Homo sapiens: one gene and its partners. The protein of the gene in region 1 purifies or fractionates together with the protein of each later gene. This does not show direct contact. Each region holds a gene or a part of one and is shown in the gene's direction. Other genes may lie near its edges. The genes, in order: GPAT4, EHD2 and CHP1.

What was found.
Region 2: the proteins of GPAT4 (region 1) and EHD2 purify together in Homo sapiens (affinity purification with mass spectrometry; 2 studies listed by BioGRID and IntAct, with this or other methods). This does not show direct contact.
Region 3: the proteins of GPAT4 (region 1) and CHP1 purify together in Homo sapiens (co-immunoprecipitation; 2 studies listed by BioGRID and IntAct, with this or other methods). This does not show direct contact.

Annotation. Positions count from the first base shown.
Region 1 is NC_000008.11:41,573,852-41,581,901, forward strand, and holds the start of GPAT4 (glycerol-3-phosphate acyltransferase 4 isoform 1 precursor), read left to right. Parts: upstream 1-4,348; 5' UTR 4,349-4,427; intron 4,428-4,454; exon of another isoform or gene 4,455-4,517; intron 4,518-4,664; exon of another isoform or gene 4,665-4,729; intron 4,730-8,050. UniProt on the Homo sapiens protein: Converts glycerol-3-phosphate to 1-acyl-sn-glycerol-3-phosphate (lysophosphatidic acid or LPA) by incorporating an acyl moiety at the sn-1 position of the glycerol backbone. Active against both saturated and unsaturated long-chain fatty acyl-CoAs.
Region 2 is NC_000019.10:47,729,897-47,737,967, forward strand, and holds part of EHD2 (EH domain-containing protein 2), read left to right. Parts: intron 1-6,472; coding exon 6,473-6,637; intron 6,638-8,071. UniProt on the Homo sapiens protein: ATP- and membrane-binding protein that controls membrane reorganization/tubulation upon ATP hydrolysis. Plays a role in membrane trafficking between the plasma membrane and endosomes. Important for the internalization of GLUT4.
Region 3 is NC_000015.10:41,275,449-41,282,639, forward strand, and holds the end of CHP1 (calcineurin B homologous protein 1), read left to right. Parts: intron 1-3,318; coding exon 3,319-3,441; intron 3,442-3,887; coding exon 3,888-3,941; 3' UTR 3,942-6,439; downstream 6,440-7,191. UniProt on the Homo sapiens protein: Calcium-binding protein involved in different processes such as regulation of vesicular trafficking, plasma membrane Na(+)/H(+) exchanger and gene transcription. Involved in the constitutive exocytic membrane traffic.

The DNA of each region.
Region 1 (8,050 bases):
AAATGTCCGTCAACGACAAATAGATAAAGAAAATGTGGTATACAAATACAATGGGGCCAGGCGCAGTGGCTCATGCCTGTAATTCCGGCACTTTGGGAGGCTGAAGTGGGTGGATAACTTGAGGTCAGGAGTTCGAGACCAGCCTGACCAACATGGTGAAACTCCATCTCTACTAAAAATAAAATTAAAAAAAAAAATTAGCCAGGCATGGTGGCGCATGCCTGTAATCCCAGCTATTTGGGAGGCTGAGGCAGGAGAATCTCTTGAACCCAGGAGGCGGAGGTTGCAGTGAGCCAAGATCATGCCATTGCACTCAAGCCTGGGAAACAAGAGCAAAAACTCCGTCTCAAAATAAACATACATACATACAATGGAATATTAGCCCTAAAAAAAAGGGAACTCTGACACATGCTACAACATGGATGAATCTGGAGGACACTGTGCTAAGTGAAATAAGCCAGTCACAAAAAGACAAAATCCGACTATTTATATGAGGCAGACTACTTGAACTCCCATTAGCAGAACGTAGAATGGTAGAATGGTTGTTACTGGGGGTAGAGAGAAGAGAAATGAAATTTTTTTTTAATGGGCATAGAATGTCAATTTTTTTTTTTTTTTTTTTTTTTTAGAGATTGGGTTCCCCCATGTTTCCCAGGCTTGGTCTCAAACTCCTGGGCTCGAGCAATCCACTTGCCTCAGCCTCCCAAATAACTGGAATTACAGGCATTAGATACCATCCCCAGCCTTGATGGAAATTTCTGAAGATTCATAATAATGAAAATATATTTAACACCACTGAACTGTACACTTAGAAATGATTAAGATGGGCCAGGCCCAGTGGGTCATGTCAGTAATCCCAGCACTTTGGGAGGCCAAGGTGGGTAGATCACCTAAGGTCAGGAGTTCAAGAGCAGCCTGGTCAATATGGTGAAAACCCATCTCTACTAAAAATGCAAAAATTATCTGGGCATGATGGCGCGCACCTGTAGTCCCAGCTACCTGGGAGGCTGAGGCAGAAGAATCACTTGAACTGGGAGGCAGTGGTTGCAGTGAGGCGAGATCTCACCACTGCAGTCCAACCTGGGCCACAGAGTGAGACTCCGTCCCCTCTCCCCTCCACCAAAAAAATTAGCCAGATGTGGTGGTGCATGCCTGTAATCCTGGCTACTCGGGAGACTGAGGTGAGAGGATCGCTTGGACCTGGAGGCGGAGGTTGCAGTGAGCTGAGATTGTGCCACTGTACTCCAGCCTGGGCAAGAGAGTGAGACTCCATCTCAAAAAAAAAAAAAAAAGAACTGATTAAGATGGTATAATAAATTTTAGGTTCTACGTATTCTACCACAATTGAAAACATTTTTTAAAAATAATATTTATTTTACTTTCTTTGGCTTTTTATTTTGGTGCTTGGAAATGAGCATTGATGTTGCTGGTTGTGCAGTCGACAGTTAGGGATTCACCTCTTAATGAATGGCAAACTCTTTGTAGATGTTAAAGTTGACTTTGGAAGGAAGATAAGTTGTACGGCACAGGCATGGTACTCTCCTGGGGAAAGGGGTTCTTCCCAGGCTCACAGCACTGTGCACCATGTACAGAGCACACATTTTGGGGAAATGCCCTCATACTATGAATGAATTCAAAGTTAGTATGGGGTAGGATCTAAATCTTGTGATCTCTTTCTTCTAAAGGACTACCCTTCATCAGGTTTTAAAAATTACTCCTATAATTTCTGCAGTATGAGTTTTTTCATTCTAGAATGTGAAAATACTGCCAACAATAATCTAAAGACAGCCCATATTCACAGCGACAAGAAGTTCAGTGTTGGCTATAGCTCGGTCATGCTATGGGCAGGAGGCCTTCTCTAAAGATAAGTCTGCTTTGTGTCAAGCATTTCAAGCATGACTTGCTTGTTTCATCTGCCCATTTACATTCCTTGTACCTAGAAATGAATGTGATAAAAGTTTTGGTGCCTACAGGAACTATATTTACCTAGTTCATGTTGGCTTCCCACTCAGAGGGAAGTTTGATTGCCTTCCTGCACTTGAGAAGTTTAGAGAATGTGCCAGTGAATGTGCACACTCACAAGGTGTGTGTGTGTATCAGTGTTAATACCCAACAATTGAGCCTACTATTTGCTTGGGCAAAGAACACCATTTTCTCTTGAGCCTCTAATATGTGTGAAATATTTTAAGATTTCAATATTATGTACAAAGAACTAGTAGATGGTAAGAATTGTGAGAAAATATAACCATGAGAACACAAAGAGAGTACAGCAGATGAGTGGGCTACTTCCAAGACTGGTTCTGGGGGCAGAAAAGGAGACCAGACGAAGGACTCCAAAGAGCAGTTGAGATCCTGGTGGCCACTTTAAATCCCTATCCCTAGCACTGTGGAGAACACAACACAAAAATGTATGATGTCTGGTTTCTTCTTCTTTTTTTTTTTTTTTTCTGAGATGGAGTCTCCCTCTGTCGCCCAGGCTGGAGTGTAGTGGTGCGATCTCAACTCACTGCAACCTCCGCCTCCTGGGTTCAAGCAAGTCTCCTGCCTCAGCCTCCCGAATAGCTGGGATTACAGGTGCGCACCACCACGCCCGGCTAATTTTTGTATTTTTAGTAGAGACGGAGAGACGGGGTTTCACCATGTTGGTCAGGCTGGTCTCGAATGCCTGACCTCGTGATTCCCCCGCCTCAGCCTCCCAAAGTGCTGGGATTACAGGGGTGAGCCACCGCGCCCGGTGGTTTCTTCTCTTATGGAATTTAATGTCGTTGACGATTAGACGTGGCCATGCATTACTCAATCTTGAATTGGGATCCCCAAAAAAGCTGGGCGAGTAACAAGGGCTCAATGAATGGATAAGTGATTGAGTTAATAAATACGTGATCAGTTCCAAATGGGTAACATTTAGTTATATTTGGTGGAGATAAGTAGTCCAGTGTTTTGGAGCTAAGTGGTTATTCTTTTTTTTTTTTTTTTTTTTGAGTTTGGGTCTCGCTCTGTCACACAGGCTGGAGTATAGTGCCACAATCTCAGTTCACTGCAACATCTGCCTCCTGGGTTCATGCAATTCTCCTGTCTCAGCCTCCCGAGTAGCTGGGATTACAGGTGCGTGCCATCACCCCCGGCTAAATTTTGTATTTTTAGTAGAGACGGGGTTTCACCATGTTGGCCAGGCTGGTCTCAAACTCCTGGCCTTAAGTGATCTGTCCGCCTCTGCCTCCCAAAGTGCTGGGATTACAGGCGTGAGCTACCCGCGCCCCGCTCCCCCCACCATTTTTTTTTAATTTTCAAAATTTTTGTAGAAGTGGGGGTCTCGTTACGTTGCCCCGGCTAGTCTCAAACTCCTGGCCTCAAGCGATCCTCCTGCTTTGGCCTCCCAAAACGCTGGGATTACTGGCGTGAACTACCATACTCTGCCCTTTATTCTTACAGAGATTTTGAGGTCTAAGAATGTGGACTTTAAAGATTTCATTATCAGATTATGCATTTAGCACGGAATGACAATCTGACAGCCGTGTACAGCGTAAACCGGCGGAGAGGGCTTGGCACTAAAGGCAAACTGTCTTTTAAGAACAGGAAAAAGAAAGGTAATATATATTTTAAGGAGGTCCCATTTTAGGGGAGATAATAAGCTTGGGTTAGGCGTCCGAAGTCAGAAGATATAGTAAGAAACACACACGCAAACTCCAGCAGCCACCAGCTAGACTTGAGTAGAGAGAGCAGGTCCAAGTGGAGGTGGAAGTTGGAAAGTTGCATCTGCCAGGCAGGGCGAAAGTGGCCTACACCCACTCCTGGAGCACCCTGCTTGACGAGCAAGGTAGACGAGGCTGAGGGATACTGCTGGTGATGACGGTGGTCGTGGTGATGGTGCTGGTAGCTAACAGATCTTGAGCGTACCAGGCCCTGAGCTGAGTCCTCTAACGGGCAGAATGTCGCTGCATACGGACAGCAGCCTCAAGAGGACAAGGTGATTTAGTGACTCTAGCCTCTTCCCGCGGTGCCAGCCTGATTTCACCCTCTCCGGAACACACAAGCGAACCTCCGGGGAGGGAGCCAGTATCGGGTCCTAACGCAGGGAAGCGCTCCGCTTTCTGAGAGGGACGCGCCAGCGGAGGGACAGCCAGGGCCCGGCCTCTCCTGCTCCTGCCCCGCCCCGCCCCCGGCAGTGCCCCCTAGTCCGCCAGAGGGCGACTCCGCGGGTCGCCCAACCCGCGACCGGTCCACGCGGCACCCGCCTCTCCCTAGGCCCCCGCCCTGCCGGCCCGCGCGCGCCCGACGGGAGCGTGCGGGGCGGTGGGCGCAGGGTCACGTTGGGCGGCGCAGACAAAGGCGGGCGCGCGCACGTCCTGACGCAGCTTGGGCCCGCGGCGGCGGCAAGGGCGGGAGGGAGCGGTCGCCGCGGGATTTGGAGCTGCCTAGCCTCGCGGTCGGTGAGTAGGAGGGAGCTGGCCCCTTACCTCAAAGTCTCCGACCTCCGGGGAGCCGAGAGCGGGACGTGGGAGCCGGGCTTGGGCGGCCGCGCGGGGCCTGCGGTCTGGGACGCCCCGGCGACGCTGCGCCGGCGTCAGGAGGCACCATCGCCGCGCCCCGGGGATCCCCGGCGGGTGGAGCGGGTGCCCCCCGTCCGGGATGGAACGGTCCGCGCCCGCCCCGAACCCCGGCCGCCCGCCTCTCCGCTCGCCTGCTCTCCGAGCCCGGCTCCTCGGAGCCCCTCGCCTCCCCCAAGTCCCAGGTGTGCGCAGCCCTCCCGCCCCGGGAGTCCGGGGATGTGGGTGGCGAGGGCTGCTGGGCGTTGGAGCACCAGGAAGCGCCTTCCCCTGTCATTCCCCTTCCTGTGTTCTCTGGCTGCCGTAAGATGCATGTCTTTACCCTCTCCTTCTCCAAATGCATGCTCCCATTTTTCTTTAGGATTTCTTAACTCCTGAAATCCCTTGCCTTTCCTTTTTTATTTCAGCACCCTCTGAGGCATCCTTCTCCCAGTGGGGCTTGTTTATTTCCTCGCTTTCCATGTCACAGAGGGCTGAAGTTTAGCTGTTCAGAAGTTGCAGAAAATAGCTTATAGGAGACATACGGTGTAGCACGATGGAAATAAGTTCCATCCTCTGCCAAGTATTACCATGGATCTTCTCATGGATAACCTTGAGGTCATTTGAGGAATTTTGTTTTTGGTTCATTTTCCTTAATTTTGGCTGAACTTTGAGGAGCTCTCCTTAGTTTCATGTCTTGTAGATTCTATCTCAATCCAAGGGAAATGGTGTGAAGAGCAGTTATACCATACCAAAGTCTCCAGACAAAATCCTGTAATAATGCCAATCAAATATACTTCTCTCTTTGAAAGAGATGTGCTTTTCTTTTCTTTTTTAACTTTGTATTTTGGAGAATTTCAGACACAGGGAAATAGATGGAATAGGGAACCAGCATGTACTTGTTCTGGCCTCCTCAGCCACTTAACTGTGGCTATTCCTGTGCCATACACACCCCACCCATTTCCCCTCCCGTATGTCTCAGGGAGAACTTGATGCAAGATGAGTCTGTCAAAAGTAGCTTCAGTTCCATAATGAAAACCACCATACCAAGTCATAAGGTGCTTTTTGTTTTGGAACACAGCCTACTCATGAGGTCTTCAGCTAAGAAACACAGTAGAGTTGAAGAAAGAGCACAGCAAAAGGTATCTTAACATGATAGAACAGGTTAAAAGAAAAAGTATGGCCGGGCGTGGTGACTCACGCCGGTAATCCCAGCACTTTGGGAGGCCGAGGCGGGCGGATCACCTAAAGTCAGGAGTTCAAGACCAGCCTGGCCAACATGGTGAAACCCTGCATATACTAAAAATACAAAAATTAGCCGGACGTGGTGGCAAGTACTTGTATTCCCAGCTACTCGGGAGGCTGAGGCCGGAGAATCGCTTGAACCCAGGAGGCAGAGGTTGCAGTGAGCCAAGATTGCGCCGCTGCACTCCAGCCTGGGCGACAGAGCGAGACTCGTGTCAAAAAAAAAAAGAAAAGAAAAAAAGTGTTTCAGATCTGGATGAGAACATTCGGAACGTCCTGTTCAATGTTTTCATTTTTTTCTGAGCCCTTGGAGGTCCAGAGAAGTTCAGTGACTTGTCCAGAGCTGCAGGTCTTAAGAGGCTGAAATCTCGCCTCTGCCTCGAGGCTGCGGTTCCACTGACCCATACTACTTGCCTTCAGGAAAGAGAAATGGTGTAGGAAGGCTGTGGATGAAGACGCTTACATTCATGAAGGATTTGGATAGGCGAACATGAGCTTTTCCACCAAATTTCAGAATTTTAAGAAATGCCTTAAATTATTTCTTAAAAATCAATTTGGGGCAGACGAGAAGTTCTGATAATAGTTTTTAGGGAACATGATAAAATTCTGACCTTAGAAGTGGTATACCAGTTTGAGAAGAAGAACAAGCTATAAACGGTGTAGATAACATTCACGGCTATTTAAGAAAGAGTTACTAAGGGAAACCAGAATGACTTAAGAGTGTTACTCTTCTTTTTCTGAGAGAACAATAGCATCATCTCAGAAAGCCTTTCATGCCATTAATAGGTAAGAATCTGGGCTTCTTGGACCATGGGTTAGACTTTCTTACAAAACCATAATATGCATTTCCTAGCAAAATTTATGCTATTACATTTCCTTATCTCAACAAAGACTGGTAAATTCAGTACTTATTCCTCAATTTTCCTACCCTTAAAATGGGGATATTCTGCCTCTCCAAGGAATGCTGGGAACAAGCAAGTCCTCATGTTAGGGGTCTTTGAGTTTTCATGGAAGTTTAGGTTATTTATATGATGACATAGTTGTCAACTTACTTTCAGGATGGACTTTTCTTTTGTGAGTTTGTGACCTAAATACAATAGTTGTTATGCATGTCCAGTTTATGGAAGTACCACTGCAATAACAGCATTTGAGTGTCATGGTAAATCATTACCCCTAAAGATAGAGGAGGGAGGAGGAGGCAACTGTTGTGTGTCTATTTTGTGTTTGGTGTGAGGAGTGTTGTGGCTAGGCTCTTCAGAGGCTAGCCTAACTTGCTAAGTGGTTTCTGCTAAAGAAAAACCCACTTTTCTTGTGTGTGCTTGTCACCACAAGTTAGCTTTTATTAAAAACAAAACAAAACTCTCTAAGCTATCTGGAGATGATTTGGCCCTGGTTAAACATGAACTGTACTGCAGAATTGTTTGTTTGGGTAAAGTAGAACCTCATTATGACGTGTCTTTTACTTCCTACTGTGTCATTGTGCTCATGGAGAGAACTTGACGGAATATCATCCGTTCCATGTATCACTAAACCATGTAATAGCGTACACTATGATTAAGGCTTTTTAAGAGAATAGAATTTTAGAGTTAGAAGGAGTCTTCCAAGTGCTTAGAGTTTCCCCTGAGTCCTTTAATGTACTTTTTCACCTTTAAAACACATGCAGACACGTACACATGCCACACAAACACAGAGTCTCATCTAGGGCTCTCTTCATTTTGCCTTGTACAATCTTAGTATGTTTGGATCCCACCTCCAGTTAATTTGTAAACCGAAGATCTGCAATAATAGAAAAATGCTTTGTAAAACAGGAGCGTAATACATTTGCACTTGACTTTTATTTATTTATTTTATAGAGATGGTCTTGATCTGTGGCTCAGGCTGGAGTGCAGTGGCATGATCAAGGCTCACTGCACCCTCAGCCTCCCTGGCTCAAACGGTCCTCCCGCCTCAGCCTCCCAAAGGGTCGGAATTACAGACATGAGCCACCATGCCAGGCCTTTGTTGACTTTTTTTTTTTTTTTTTTTTTGAGACAGAGTCTTGCTCTGTCGCCCAGGCTGGAGTGCAGTGGCGCAATCTCGGCTCACTGCAAGCTCCGCCTCCCGGGTTCACACCATTCTCCTGCCTTAGCCTCCTCAGTAGCTGGGATTACAGGCGCCTGCCACCACGCCCGGCTAATTTTTTTTTTGTATTTTTTAGTAGAGACAGGGTTTCACCGTGTTAGCCAGGATGGTCTCGATCTCCTGACCTCGTGATCCCCCCGCCTCGGCCTCCCAAAGTGCTG
Region 2 (8,071 bases), on another chromosome or scaffold:
TTATTCTAACTCCCTTTCCTTTTCTTTCTCGCTCTGCCTCCTCCTGTCTCTCCATCTCTCCCCCGCTCCGCCGCCGCCCTCTCTCTGTCTTCCTCCTGGTCTTGCTTAGACTCCCCCAGGTTCGTTCCCGCGGGTCCCTTGGCGGGAGCTGGAGCACAAGGCCCAGGGACAGAGGGGTGGGTCCGGGCCAGACACCTGGTGCCCCCGCCGGGCTGGGGGCGGCTCCGGAAACCCAGACAAACCCCGGAGTCAGGGACCCAGCCCCGGCCCAGCCCGCCCTCTCACCTTATCTCTTCCTGGCACCTTCCCCTGCTTCCTCTCTGGAAAAGCCATCAGCGCCCTCCCGCCTACCCTCCTTTGGTCCCTACGGAGCCGCCCTTCGGCCCTGCCCCCTGGCTCCATTGGCCCGCTCTCACAGGCCCCGCCCCCAGCCCGGCCACACCCCTGCCCTGATTGGTCCTTCAGACCATTAGGCACTCCCTCCCCCTCTTCCTGCAGGTTCATCCATGGCTCCCCAGTGCCGTTCAGGACACAGGAGCATGGGATTTAGGGTCCGCTGTGACCAAGGCTCACTGCCCCTCCTTTGCCCCGTGTCGCACCCCCACCCCTGCTCCTCACATATGAGTCCGCCACACTTGGTCGTCACCAACAATAGCCATACTGTTAACCTCCCCTCATGCTCTCCTCCAAAGATACCAGGCCTTCCTGGACTCTCTGGGAGGAGGCATTCACCCTCCTCCCAGTGCCTCAGTTTCCCATCTGTACGATGGAGGGTGTGGACGAATCCTCTGGCTCTAAGTCCTTTGGCTGAAGTGATAGCTGTTAGAAGGGGAGATTTTATGATGCTGTGATACGTAAGGCCAAGATCTTGGGAGGGTCTGATTCTATAGACGCCAAGATGCCCTGAACCTTCAGACCACATTCTCTGCAGTGGCCCAGTGACATTCATTCAGCAGTTGCCGATCGCATGTGGTACTCCTCTAGGCTCTGGGGATACAGCAGGGAACACAGATAAATTCCTTTTCTCATAGAATTACTTTTTAGTGGGGAAGCAAACATTAAACAAATCAATGGTTATGAAGAAAAATGAAGCGGAGGAAAGAGGGGCTGGCGAGGGACTATTTTAGAGCGCTCTGAAGGAGAGGAAGGGGTAAGAGGAAGGGGTGAGCCGAGTGGCGATCGGGTGGAAGAGCAGTCCATGCAGTGAGAACAGCATGTGCAAAGGCCCTGGGGCAGCCATGCACTTGATGTGTTTGAACTGAGAGCCTAACGGGGCTGGAGACAGGGTGGTGGTGGAAGGTGGAAGAGATGAAGATTTAGAACCAGTCAGGGACCACCAACGTTCTCAGCAGTCTAAATTTGTGATTCTTTAAAAAAAAAAAAATATATATATATATATATATATACATATATATATAATTTTTTTTTTTTTAGATGGAGTCTCTCTCTATCACCCAGGCTGGAGAGCAGTGGCATGATCTCGGCTCACTGCAACCTCTGCCTCCCAGGTTAAAGTGATTCTTGTGCCTCAGCTTTCCGAGTAGCTGGGACTCCAGGCAGGTGCCACCACACCTGGCTAATTTTTGTATTTTTAGTAGAGATGGGTTCTCACCATGTTGGCCAGGCTGGTCTCGAACTCCTGACCTCAGGTGATCCGCTGGCCTCGGCCTCCCGAAGTGTTGGGATTACAGGCATGAGCCACTGTGCCTGGCCTAAAAGAATTTTTTAACTAGTCTTTTTTATTGAACATTTAAGACCATCTCATGGAAAGGCATTCATACTTTATCAGACATGATTCTCCCACACCTCACCCCACCAGCTCCCAGGGCCTCTTTTCTAGAGGCAACCCCCATAAGTAGTTTCTTGTGTGTCTTTCCAGATATACTGCATTTTTTTTTTTTTTTTTTTTGAGACGGAGTCTCGCTCTGTCGCCTAGGCTGGAGTGCAGTGGCATGATCTCGGCTCACTGCAAGCTCCGCCTCCCGGGTTCACGCCATTCTCCTGCCTCAGCCTCCCGAGTAGCTGGGACTACAGGTGCCTGCCACCACGCCTGGCTAATTTTTTGTATTTTTAGTAGAGGCGGGGTTTCACTGTGTTAGCCAGGATGGTCTCGATCTCCTGACCTCATGATCCGCCTGCCTCTGCCTCCCAAAGTGCTGGGATTACAGGCGTGATATACTGTAATCACGCCCGGCCAATATACTGCATTTTGTAAAAGCATTTATTTATTATTATTTTGTTTTGAGACTGAGTCTCACTCTGTCGCCCAGGCTGGTGCAATGGCACGGTCTCAGCTCACTGCAACCTCCACCTCCCAGGTTCAAGTGATTCTCCTGCCTCAGCTTCCCATGTAGCTTGGATTATAGGTGGGCACCATCAGCCCGGCTAATTTTTGTATTTTTAGTAGAGATAGCATTTCACCATGTTGTCCAGGCTGGTCTCTAACTCCTGACCTCAGGTGATCGACCCGCTTCAGCCTCCCAAAGTGCTGGGATTACAGGCGTGAGCCACCGCGCCTGGCCTATTTATTCATTTTTTTAGAGACAAAGGCTCGCTGTGTCGCCCAGACTGGAGTGCAGTGGCGACATCATAGCTCACTTCAGTCTCAAACCTCTGGGCTCAAGTGATCCTCCCTCCTCAGCCCCGGCAATTCACTGGGACTATAGGCGCGCGCCAGTACACCCAACTAGTTTTAAAATTTTTTTTTAGAGACCAAGTCTTGCTATGTTGCCCAGGCTGGTCTCGAACTTCTGGCCTCAAGTGATCCTCCCCCCTTGGCTTCCCAAAGTGCTGGGATTATAGGCATGAGCAATATTTAATTTGTGAGCTTCCTATAAAATATAGACATACCAATATTCATTATTCTGCTCTCCTTGTTTATTTTTCGATAATTTATAAGATTGTGGACCAGGTGTGGTGGCTCACACCTGTAATCCCAGCACTTTGGGGGACCAATGTGGGCGGATCATCTGAGATCAGGAGTTCAAGACCAGCCTGACCAACATGGAGAAATCCCATCTCTACTAAAAATATAAAATTAGCTGGGCATGGTGGTGCATGCCTGTGATCCCAGCTACTCAGGAGGCTGAGGCAGGAGAATCGCTTGAACCCAGGAGGCAGAGGTTGCAGTGAGACAAGATCGCACCACTGCACTCCAGCCTGGGCAACAGAGTGAAACCCCATCTCAAAAAAAAAATAAAAAATAAAAAATAAAAAGATTGTGTTTCAAAGGTTCTCAAGTTCATTGGTTTATTCCACAAATATTTCCTGAGTGTTTTCTGTACAGATTGTACTGGTGCTGGAGATGGAGGGAACAGACAAGTTTCCAGCCCTTCTGGGGCTCCTTTTTTTTTTTTTGAGACAGTGTCTTGCTCTGTCACCCAGGCTGGAGTGCAGTGGTATGATCATGGCTCACTGTAGCCTTGACCTCCCCGGCTTCAGTGATCCTCCCATCTCAGCCTCTTGAGAAGAGAAGATTAATAAATCAAGACATTAGGCCAGGCGCGGTGGTTCATGCCTATAATCTCAGCACTTTGGAAGACTGAGGCGGGCGGATCACAAGGTCAAGAGATCGAGACCATCCTGGCCAACATGGTGGAACCCAGTCTCTACTAAAAATACAAAAATTATCATGGTGGCGGGCGCCTGTAGTCCCAGCTACTTGGGAGGCTGAGGCAGGAGAATGGCGTGAACCCGGGAGGTGGAGCTTGCAGTGAGCCGAGATTGAGCCACTGCACTCCAGCCTGGGCGGCAGAGTGAGACTCTGTCTCAAAAAATAAATAAATAAATAAATAAATAAAGTCATTATTTGCACCACTGCACTCCAGTCTGGGTGACAGAGCAAGACTCTGTCTCAAAAAAAAAAAAAAAAAAAAAAAATCCACTGTCCATTTGGGAGAAAAAAAGAGTGAAGAAAGCAAAAAGCGAATAACGTCTTAGTATTGTTCTTAAAATAATTTTGACCACAGGAACCCCCGAAAGGATCTTGAGGACCCCTGGGTTTCCCTGGACCACACTTCGTGAATTGCTGCTGTAGGGCTTTGTCGGCTTCGGTAGAAATTTTGAACTTCAATAAGCAAATAGAGAGTTATGAGCAGCATCCCCTGGGCTCATGTTCCTTCCTGAAAAATGCCCTCTTGGGCCACTGCTGCATGGAGCAAGGGTTATTGGGGCAGGATGGGGAGCTGGGAGACCTGTCGGGCCACCTTGGGTGTCTCCCCAGGCAAGAGAGGATGACGCTCGAATGGACATGGTGGCCACTGAGGTGGAGAGAAATGAGAAGCAGGGGAGAGGCTGGGCGTAGTAGCGGGTGCCTGTAGTCCCAGCTACTCAGGAGGCTGAGGTGGGAGGATGGATTGAGCTGGGAAGGTGGAGGTTGCACTGAGCCGAGATTGTGCCACTGCACTCCAGCCTGGGGGACAGAGCCAGACCCTGTCTAAAAAAAGCAAAAAAGAAAAGGAAAGTAGGGGAGAGAGGGAGAGACATAGGAGGAGGCAAAAGGGACTCATTGATAGGTTGGATGTGGCTACTTAACAGGAGGAAGAATCAAATATCAAATCAATAATGATTTCAAGAGCTGGGTACCGTGGCTCCCGCCTGTAATCCAGCACTTTGGGAGGCTGAGGCAGGCAGATCATTTGAGGTCAGGAGTTTGAGACCAGCCTGGCCAACATGGTGAAAACCCCTCTCTACTAAAAATACAAAAATTAGTGGTGGCGGGCACCTGTAATCCCAGCTACTCGAGAGGTAGAGGCAGGAGGATTGCTTGAACCCAGGAAGTGGAGGTTGCAGTGAGCCAAGATCATGCCATTGCACTCCACCCTGGGCAACAGAGTGAGACTCCCTTTCAAAAAGAAAAAAAAAGTGATTTCTAGAGCCGGACGGGGTGGCTCCCGCCTGTCATCCCAGCACTTTGGGAGGCCGAGGCGGGTGGATCTCTTGAGGTCAGGGGTTCGAGACCAGTCTGGCCAACATGGTGAAAGCCAGTCTCTACTAAACATACAAAAATTGACCAGGCATGGTGGCACGTGCCTGTAATCCCAGCTACTCGGGAGGCCAGGGCAGGAGGATTGCTTGAACCCGGAGGTGGAGGTTGCAGTGAGACAAGGTTGCGCCACTGTCCTCCAGCCTGGGTGACAGAGTGAGTGAGACTCCGTCTCAAAATAAATAAATAAATAAAAATAAAATTTCTAGATTTCTGGCCTCAACTGGGAAGGCAGGGCTGGGGATGCCCTTTTCAGAGATGGGCACAGCTGAGGGCGACACAGCTCTGAGGGCTAGGCTCAAATTCCACTTAGGGCATCCTGGTATGGAGCTATCCAGGAATGTTGACAGGGCAATTAGCTCTGAGTCCTGAGCTGGAGGGAGAGGCTTAGGCTGGTATGCAGATTCGGGAGTGGACCTCTTGGAGGGGTGTTTAAAACTGGGAGGGACTCAGCTCACTTAGTTAGCAGAGAGGAGGAGCCCAGGGTGAGCCCCAGCAGGAGGAGGCCATGAGGCTCACAGTGTGGCACCTCCGCCTGCAGCACCTGTAACTTGTCAGAAATGCAAATTCCCATCTGGGCAGTGGCTCTTGCCTGTAATCCCAGCTACTTGAGAGGCTGAGGCGGGAGGATCCCTTGAGCCCAGGAATTTGAGGCTGCAGTAAGTTATGATCGCACCACTGCACTCCTGGCTGGGTGATAGAGCGAGACCCTGTCTCCAAAAAAAAAAGAAAAAAAAGCAGGCCAGGCGCGGTGGCTCATGCCTGTAATCCCAGCACTTTGGGAGGCCACGGCGGGTGGATCACCTGAGATTAGGAGTTCAAGACCAGCCTGGCCAACATGGAGAAACCCCGTTTCTATTAAAAATACAAAAAAATTAGCCGGGTGTGGTGGCGCATGCCTGTTAATCCCAACTACTTGGGAGGCTGAGGCAGAAGAATTGCTTGAACCCAGGAGTTGGAGGTTGCAGCGAGCTGATTGCACCACTGCACTCCAGCCTGGGCAACAGAGCGAGACTCTGTCTCGAAAAAAAAAAAGACTGGGCACGGTGGCTCACACCTGTAATCCCAGCACTTTGGGAGGCCAAGGTGGGCAGATCACGAGGTCAGGAGTTTGAGACCAGCCTGACCAGCATGGTGAAACCCCATCTTTACTAAAAATACAAAAATTAGCTGGGCATAGTGGCGCATGCCTGTAATCCCAGCTACTCAGGAGCCTGAGACAGGAGAATTGCTTGAAGCCGGGAGGCGGAGGTTGCAGTGAGCCGAGATTGTGCTACTGCACTCCAGCCTCGGTGACAGAGCGAGACTCCGTCTCAAAGAAAAAAAAAGAGAGAGAGAGAGAGAAAAAGAAATAAAAGAAATACAAATTCTCATGCCCCAGCCCAGACCAAGTAAATCAGAATCTCTGGGAGTGGGGCCTGCAGCCTGTGTTTTAACAAGCTCCCTGGTGGACCCTGATGCAGGCTGAGGTGAGAACCCTTCCCACAGGTTCACGCTTACATCATCAGCTACCTGAAGAAGGAGATGCCCTCTGTGTTTGGGAAGGAGAACAAGAAGAAGCAGCTGATCCTCAAACTGCCCGTCATCTTTGCGAAGATTCAGCTGGAACATCACATCTCCCCTGGGGACTTTCCTGATTGCCAGAAAATGCAGGTGGGAAGCTGCCCAGGAGGGAATGTTGGGGGTGGGTGATGGGAAGGTTGGTTTCTGGAAGCTCTGAGATGGGACCTCAAAAGCCAGAGGGATGGATGGCAGGTTCTGGAAAGCGCCTCCCTCAAATAGTTCCGTGGGAGCATGGTTTTATGAGTCAGGCTAGGGGAGTGAAGAGAAAACCCAAAATAACAGTGGCTAAATTAAGATAGAGAGTTTTTCTTTCTTTCCTCCATAAAAAGTCCCAGAAAGTGATCCAGGACTGGTTTGGTGCTTTACAGAGCCAGGGATCTAGTCCCCTTCTGTCTTATTTCTCTTCCATGCCTGGCCTCCAGGCCCAAGGAACTTCATGGTACAAAAGGGCTGTGAAGGCTCCAGCCATTGTGTCTGCGTTCCAGCCAGCAAGAAGTTGGGAAGGGGGCCAGGCATGGTGGCTCACGCCTGTAATCCCAGCACTTTGGGAGGCCGAGGCGGGCGGATCACGAGGTCAGCAGATCAAGACCATCCTGGCTAACACGGTGAAACCCCGTCTCTACTAAAAATACAAAAAATTAGCTGGGTGTGGTGGTGGGCGCCTGTAGTCCCAGCTACTCGGGAGGCTGAGGCAGGAGAATGGTGTGAACCCGGGAGGCGGAGCTTGCACTGAGCCAAGATAGCGCCACTTTACTCCGGCCTAGGCAAAAAGAGCGAGACTCCGTCTCAAAAAAAAAAAAAAAAAGAAAAGGAAGTTGGGAAGGGGAAGAAAAGAGTAGTCTCTTTAAGAACACTGTTTATTTTATTTTCATTTATTTATTTGAGACTTAAATATTTATATTTGTAAAATATAAATATTTAAAATATACACAGCTGGGTGCAGTGGCTCATGCCTGTAATCCCAGCACTGTGGGAGGCCAAGGCGGGTGGATCACCTGAGGTCAGGAGTTCGAGACCAGCCTGGCCAACATGGTGAAACCCCGTCTGTACTAAAAATACAAAAATTAGCTGGGCATGGTGTTGCGTGCCTGTAGTCCCAGCTACTGGGGAGGCCGAGGCAGGAGAATCCCTTGAACCCGGGAGGCAGAGGTTGCAGTGAGCTGAGATCACACCACTGCAATCCAGCCTGTGTGACCGAGTAAGATTCTGTCTCAATAAATAAATAAATAAAATAAAATATATACGTTTAAAAATTTATTTATATATTTTTTAGAGATTTATTTATATATTTTTCAGAGACTCTGTTGTCCAGGCTGGAGTGCAATGGGGTGATCATAGCTCACTGTGTACTTGAACTCCTGGGCTCAAAGGTCCTTCTGCCTAGCCTCTAGAGTAGCTGGGACTACAGGCACATGCCACCATGCCTGGCTAGCTTTTTTTTTTTTTTTTTTTTTTGAGACAGAGTCTCACTCTGTCACCCAGACCGAACTGCAGAGGCGTGATCTTGGCTCACTGCAACCTCTG
Region 3 (7,191 bases), on another chromosome or scaffold:
CCGGCCAAAACTTCTGATTTTCAAGAATTGGTTTATTTAAAAAATAATCAGTTTGGATACAAATCAGTATTTCAGCTTTTTTTCTTTTTAGAAAATCATGTAATTTACTATTGATGGATTGGTTGATTGACTGATAGGGTCTCCCTCTGCTGCCTACTCTGGAGTGCAGCAACTATTCACAGGCATGATCATAGCACACTGCAGCCTTGAACTCCTGGGCTCAGACCATCCTCCTGCCTCAGCCGCCTGAGTAGCTGGTACTATAGGCATGCACTACCACACCTGGCTTGTAATTTCGCTCTTGTTGCCCAGCCTGGAGTGCAATGGTGCAATTTTGGCTCACCACAACCTCTGCCTCCCGGGTTGAAGCGATTCTCATGCCTCAGCCTCCCGAGTAGCTGGGATTACAGGTATGCACCACCACGCCCAGCTAATTTTGTATTTTTAGTAGAGATGGGGTTTCTCCACCATGCCCGGCCCATGAAATCGATTTTTAAAAAGTAAATTACAGGCCGGGCGCAGTGGCTCACGCCTGTAATCCCAGCACTTTGGGAGGCCGAGGCAGGCGGATCACCTGAGGTCGGGAGTTCGAGACCAGCCTGACCAACATGGCAAAATCCCGTCTCTACTAAAAATACAAAAATTAGCCAGGCATGCTGTTGGGCACCTGTAATCCCAGCTACTCGAGAGGCTGAGGCAGGAGAATCGCCTGAACCTGGGAGGTAGAGGTTGCAGTAAGCCAAGATCGTGCCATTGCATTCCAGCCTGGGCAACAGAGTGAGACTCCATCTCAAAAAAAAAAAAAAGAATCTATTTCATGAGATTGTAGAAGGGAGTAAAGGAGTGGAGGAAAGGAAGTCTATGAGCCACTGGGCTAGAGGCCCTTTCCTTTCTGTGGAAAAGCTCAGTTCTTGCCATCTGAAGACAGAGGTGGCTGACTGCAATAATAATATAAGGAGTCAGAAAGGTACCCTGTCTCCCATTTCATATTGCCTAAGAACCAGCCTTTCCATATTGCCTGACAGTCAAATTGTTAAAGTTGCTTATTTTGTTTAAGGAAGCAATTTTCAAAGTATGTTCACACCCTAAAGGTGTTAATAGAATTCCCAGGGGCCCAAGGATTGGTTAAGTTTAAGACAGATTTGGTGAAACAGTGTTAAATTCTCTTACTCAATTCTCGCAGCCTTTTAATTGTGCTTGTTATTTTTCTCAGAAGGGGATTTAGCATTTAACTCTTCAAGGATTTTTATGTTTTCTTGGGCCATACTTTAGGAATAGTTGGCTTAATGCAGCACTTCGAAGAGGACGACATTTTGGGTGGGATTTCAGAAAGCCCCACCAAACTGATTTAAATCAATAAGGAACTAGTTAGGCTCACGCAACAAGAATGTTTGGCATAGATTGTCCAGGCTGGTACAGTACCTAACTGATGTCCAGGAACCAGGCTTATTCTGTGTTCCTGCCCTGGCATCCATAGCTCATATTACTCACCTCATGGCTCCAGGGTGGCTGCAGTGCCACCAGACAGAATGAGGTAAGAAGAATGAGGAAGGGCAAAATGCAAAGGACTCTCCCTTAGTCTTTGTCTTCTTATCCAGTCACCTAGATAAGTTCTGCTTACATCATTGCCTAGATGAGAAGATAAAGGTTTCAGCCTTTTAGCTGTTACTTAGTCACATGATGGTAAAGATGGGGATACATTCTGAGATATGCAATGTTAGGCAATTTTGTAGTTGTAGGAACATCATAGAATGTACCTACATGAACCTAGATGGTATAGCCTACTACACACCTAGGCTATGTGGTGTGGCCTATTGTTCCTAGACTACAAACCCGTGCAGCAAGTTACTGTTCTGACTACTATATGCAGTTGTAACATAATGGTAAGTATTTGTGTATCTAAACATATCTGTGGCTGGGCATGGTGGCTCACGCCTATAATCTCGGCACTTTGGGAGGTGGCAGAGGGAGAATTGCTTGAGCCCAGGAGTTGAAGGCCTGCCTGGGCAACACAGTGAGACCTCATTCCTACAAAAAAATTTTGAAAAATTAGCCAAGTGGCTGGGCGCAGTGGCTCACACTTGTAATCTCAGCACTTTGGGAGGCGGAGGCGGGCAGATCATGAGGTCAGGAGTTCGAGACCAGCCTGGCCAACATGGCGAAACCCCATCTCTACTAAAAATACAAAAATTAGCTGGGTGTGGTGTCACATCCCTGTAATCCCAGCTACTCGGGAGGCCGAGGCAGGGGAATCGCTTGAACTGGGGAGGCAGAGGTTGCAGTGAGCCGAGATCGTGCCATTGCACTCCAGCCTGGGCAACAAGAGTGAAACTCCGCCTCAGGAAAAAAAAAAAAAAAAGGCATGGTTGCACACACCTGTAGTGTAGTACCAGTTCCTTGGGGGAGGCTGAGGTGAGAGGATCACTTGAGCTTCGGAGGTGAGGCTGCAGTGAGCCACATTCGCAACCCAGCACTCCAGCTTGGGCAACAGAGCGAGACCCTGTCTCAAAAAAAAAACCCAAAAACAAATACTTACATCTAAACATGGAAAAGGTACAGTAAAAATATGGTATTGTAATCTTTTTTAACAAATTTTTTGGCCGGGCGCAGTGGCTCATGCCTGTAATCCCAGCACTTTGGGAGGCCGAGGTGAGCGGATCACGAGGTCAGGAGATCGAGACCATCCTGTCTAACATGCTGAAACCCCATCTCTACTAAAAATACAAAAAATTAGCCTAGCCGGGCACGGTGGCAGGCGCCTGTAATCCTAGCTACGCAGGAGGCTGAGGCAGGAGAACGGCGTGAACCCGGGAGGCAGAGCTTGCAGTGAGCTGAGATCGTGCCACTGCCCTCCAGCCTGGGCAACAGAGTGAGACTCCGTCTCAAAAAAAAAAAAAAAAAAGGAAAAAAAATTTAACTTTTAGGTTCAGGGCTACATATGCAGGTTAGTTATGTAGGTAAACTCTTGTCATGGGGGTTTGATGTACAGATTATTTCGCCACCCATGTACTAAGCCTAGTACCCAGTAGTTATTTTTTCTGTTTCTCTCTCACCTCCTACTCCACCCTCTGGTAGGCCCCAGTGTCTGTGGTTCCCCTTTTTGTGTCTATGTGTTCTCATCAAAATACAGTATTATAATCTTATAGCACCACCATTATATATGCAGTCGGTCATTAACCAAAACATTATTATGCAGTGCATGACTGTATTTGAGGGCATCAAAGGAAAAGGAGGATGGTGATAGCTTTATTTTTAATCTTAGTAAAGAGTCCCTCTGATTCCCAAGGCCCTTGTAATTCCTGGCTCTTGGTCTTCCAGGTGCTACGCATGATGGTCGGAGTAAATATCTCAGATGAGCAGCTGGGCAGCATCGCAGACAGGACCATTCAGGAGGCTGATCAGGATGGGGACAGTGCCATATCTTTCACAGAATTTGTTAAGGTTGGTCACTTACTTCTTGTTTGAAAAAGTTACGTTTTAGTGGCTGGGCGCGGTGGCTTACGCCTGTAATCCCAGCACTTTAGGAGGCCAAGGTGGGCGGATCACGAGGTCAGGAGTTCAAGACCAGCCTGGCTAACATGGTGAAACCTCATCTGTACTAAAAATACAAAAATTAGCCAGGCGTGGTGGCGCGTGCCTGTAATCCCAGCTACTTGGGAGGCTGAGGCAGGAGAATCGCTTGAACCCAGGAGGCCAAGGTTGCAGTGAGCCGAGACCACACCACTGCACTCCAGCCTGGCAACAGAGTGAGACTCTGCCTCCAAAAAAAAAAAAAAAAGTTACGTTTTACTGCACAGGAGGAAGGGGGGAAAACATTACTCAGATAAGAGCTTGGGAGTGTTGTAATCTTCATAACCTTTGTAACTGTTACTGGTTTTCTCCCCCAGGTTTTGGAGAAGGTGGATGTAGAACAGAAAATGAGCATCCGATTTCTTCACTAAAGGAGACCAAACTGTTCCTTGCGGTCTAGTATTTAAGAACTGGAACTTGAAAGTCCTCCTTCTACCAACTCCACCTCCACCCCCTCATTCCCCTTCTCCCAAAGTACTACTGCTGTTGCATGACAACCCCAAATATGTTCTGTCAACACAAACCTGCCTTTGGTGTATAAACAGGGCATTACAGAATGGTACACCCTATATATTTCTGTTCAGTATCCATTCACTAGTTCTTCATTTATAAATATCATCTTCCCCATTCTGCTGCTGAATGCCACACATCCATCCAGTCTGAGAAAGTGAGAGAGGCAATCATGCCAAGAACAAGCCAGCAAAGCTCTTTCACCAGATGTAGACTGTAGCCCTGCTGCCTTCCCTCCAGCGAGTCTGCCAGCATGCTTCTTCATCCTTTTTATATGTTCTTTGCTTCCTACTTCCCTGTCTTCCAACATACTGTTCACTTACTCTGGCAGTCTTTCTGCTTTTCATTAAGCCTCAAAATCTCCTCTGTTCTACTTGGCACCACAAGCTATGTCCTATATATGTATTTCTGACTTGGCAGGATAGTTCAGGGGTCTGGCAGTTTTTATTTACCTTCATTATTAAATGGGCCTCTGGGATGTTGCCTCTTCAGGAGCTTTTTGGTAATCAATACTTCTCTCAGAAGTATGAGACCATCCTCTGCACTCTGCTCTGTCATCAAAGGCTGCTGGGTGGAGATACCCTTTTTGAAAGGTGGCCTTGGTGAGAGGTATGGAGCCAAGTCTTCTAGGTTGCTTGCCCACATCACTCTATCTCTGGCCTCTGATTCTCAACTTTGTACCTGTGTGGCTCCTCTTGTTAGTGCAATGTTGACTGTTGAAAAAGCAGCAGTATGCTTACAGGTTTGCTTAGTTTGGGGACACCGTTACCACCAGAATGGCTGCTCTGACAATATGCCTAGGGACTTTCTCATGGCTTTTATTTAATAAGGAGGCTGGGCACCCTATAAAGCCTCATGCATTCACACCTTTGCAGCATGGTTTATGCCTCAGTGTTATGTGCACTGGAATGTTTTCCACTTCACATTTCCAAGTAGAAATATTAGTGTTACGGAAGTGCCTAATATCCCAGTCCAAATTTTTTTTTTTTTTTTTTTTTTTTTTTGAGACAGAGTCTTGCTCTGTCACCCAGGCTGGAGTGCAGTGGTGCGATCGCTCACTGCAACCTCAGCCTCCTGGATTTAAGTGATTCTCCTGCCTCAGCCTCCCAAGTAGCTGGGATTACAGGTGTGCACCACCATGCCCGGCTAATTTTTTGTATTTTTAGTGGAGACAGGGTTTCACCATGTTGGCCAGGCTGGTCTCGAACTCCTGACCTCGTGATCCGCCTGCCTCAGCCTCCCAAAGTGCTGGGATTACAGGTGTGAGCCACCACGCCTGGCCCCAGTCCAAAATATTTAAAGATTGTTTCCTTAGTGTCTTGAAGTTTTGCACAAAATTCTTTTTTTTGAGATGGAGTCTCACTCTGTCACCCAGGCTGGAGTGCAGTGGCGTGATCTTGGCTCACTGCAACCTCTGCCTCCTGGGTTCAAGCAATTCTCCCACCTCAGCCTCCCAAGTAGCTGGGATTACAGACGTGTGCCACCATACCTGGGTAATTTTTGCATTTTTAGTGGAGAGGGAGTTTCACCATGTTGGCCAGGTTGGTCTTGAACTCCTGACCTCAGGTGATCCTCCTGCCTCGGCCTCCCAAAGTGCTGGGATTACAGGCATGAGCCACCGTGCTCAGCCGCAAAATTCTTTATGAATTTTACACTTGGCAAATGTTAATGACGGAAGCCATAGTCTGCTCCTAATACATGTCCAAAGCATTGACTGTTGTGTCATTAGCTGCCTGGTTACATTAGCTCCCTGGCTTCTTGTTTAGACCACTGCTAATCCCTTAAAAACAAGAGGTCTGGCACTAGTAGCACAACCTAAGGTGGCATTACAGATCTTTGAGCGAGCCACAGCAACTTTTCTGCCAAGTCAGCTTAGTTTAGACTTCAGTGAATCAGGCTATTGCTATCCTAATGTATGTCTCTATGAGTGTATTTAGCCACACATCTGCCCTTGGTTGACTTTCTGACTCATTGCTTGCTTGCTTGTTTCCTTGCTTTGGAAAACTATTGAAGATTGCTAAAAAATACCACTGCAAAGTGATGGAAAAGGGTGGAGAACAGGGGAGTAGCCAGGCTGGATGGCTCAAATATAAATGAATGAGGAATTCTTTATGAAGTATCAGTCAGATTTTATGATTAAGTGATGTAATATAGGAATTATGTAAAAGGGAAGAATGTCTGATACTGATCTATTAGAGAGGTACTTTAGAGGCTTCTTGATTGGCATAAAGTTCCTAAGGTTATAGATTTTCCCCCCTTTTGGCTGTATAGCAAAGTGTTTTAATCCACGGTTGTGCCTTATTGTTCCATTAAAATTGTATCTTCGATCCATCAATAAATACTTGTGGTTGAAACAAAATAACTTTTGTCCATTTTACAAGAATTTTATGTAACTTAGTCCCTTCAAGTTTGAAATCACAGTGTCTCCCTTACTCAAGTTTATGTCTGTACGGTCAGCTGCAGTCTACTCTGCTGCTGCCTGGATATATGAAGTGGAAACATTCATCGAGGGGCCAGCACTTTTGGCTTCGACATGGTTTTGTCAGCCGTGGCCACTTCCCATTCATTCCAGCTAAGACGCAATTTCTATTCTTGACTCCCTGACTCCTTAAATGTAGAAAAAGCCTAAAAATCCAGTATATGTCCATTCCTTAAATTGCCCACCTCCTCATTCATGTGCAGCCTCAGCGGTGACATACTCTGGTTTTACATGGCTTTTTCTTTGCATTTCTTTTTTGAGATGGAGTCTCACTCTTGCCCAGGCTGGAGTGTAATGGCACAGTCTTGGCTCACTGCAACCTCCGCCTCCCAGGTTCAAGCAATTCTCCTGCCTCAGCCTCCTGAGTAGCTGGGATTACAGGCACGTGCCACCACACCTGGCTAATTTTTGTATTTTTGGTAGAGATTGGGGTTTCACCATGTTGGCCAGGCTGGTCTTGAACTCCTGACCTCAGCTGATCCACCCGCCTCAGCCTCCCAAAGTGCTGGGATTACAGCCACCGTGCCAGGCCAGGAATCTGCATTTCTAAGAATCCACCCAGATGACAGCCCTCTTGGTGTTTGGCAAGCACAGTGGACCTACACTGCCTACGCTGGGCCTCGCTTGTCATA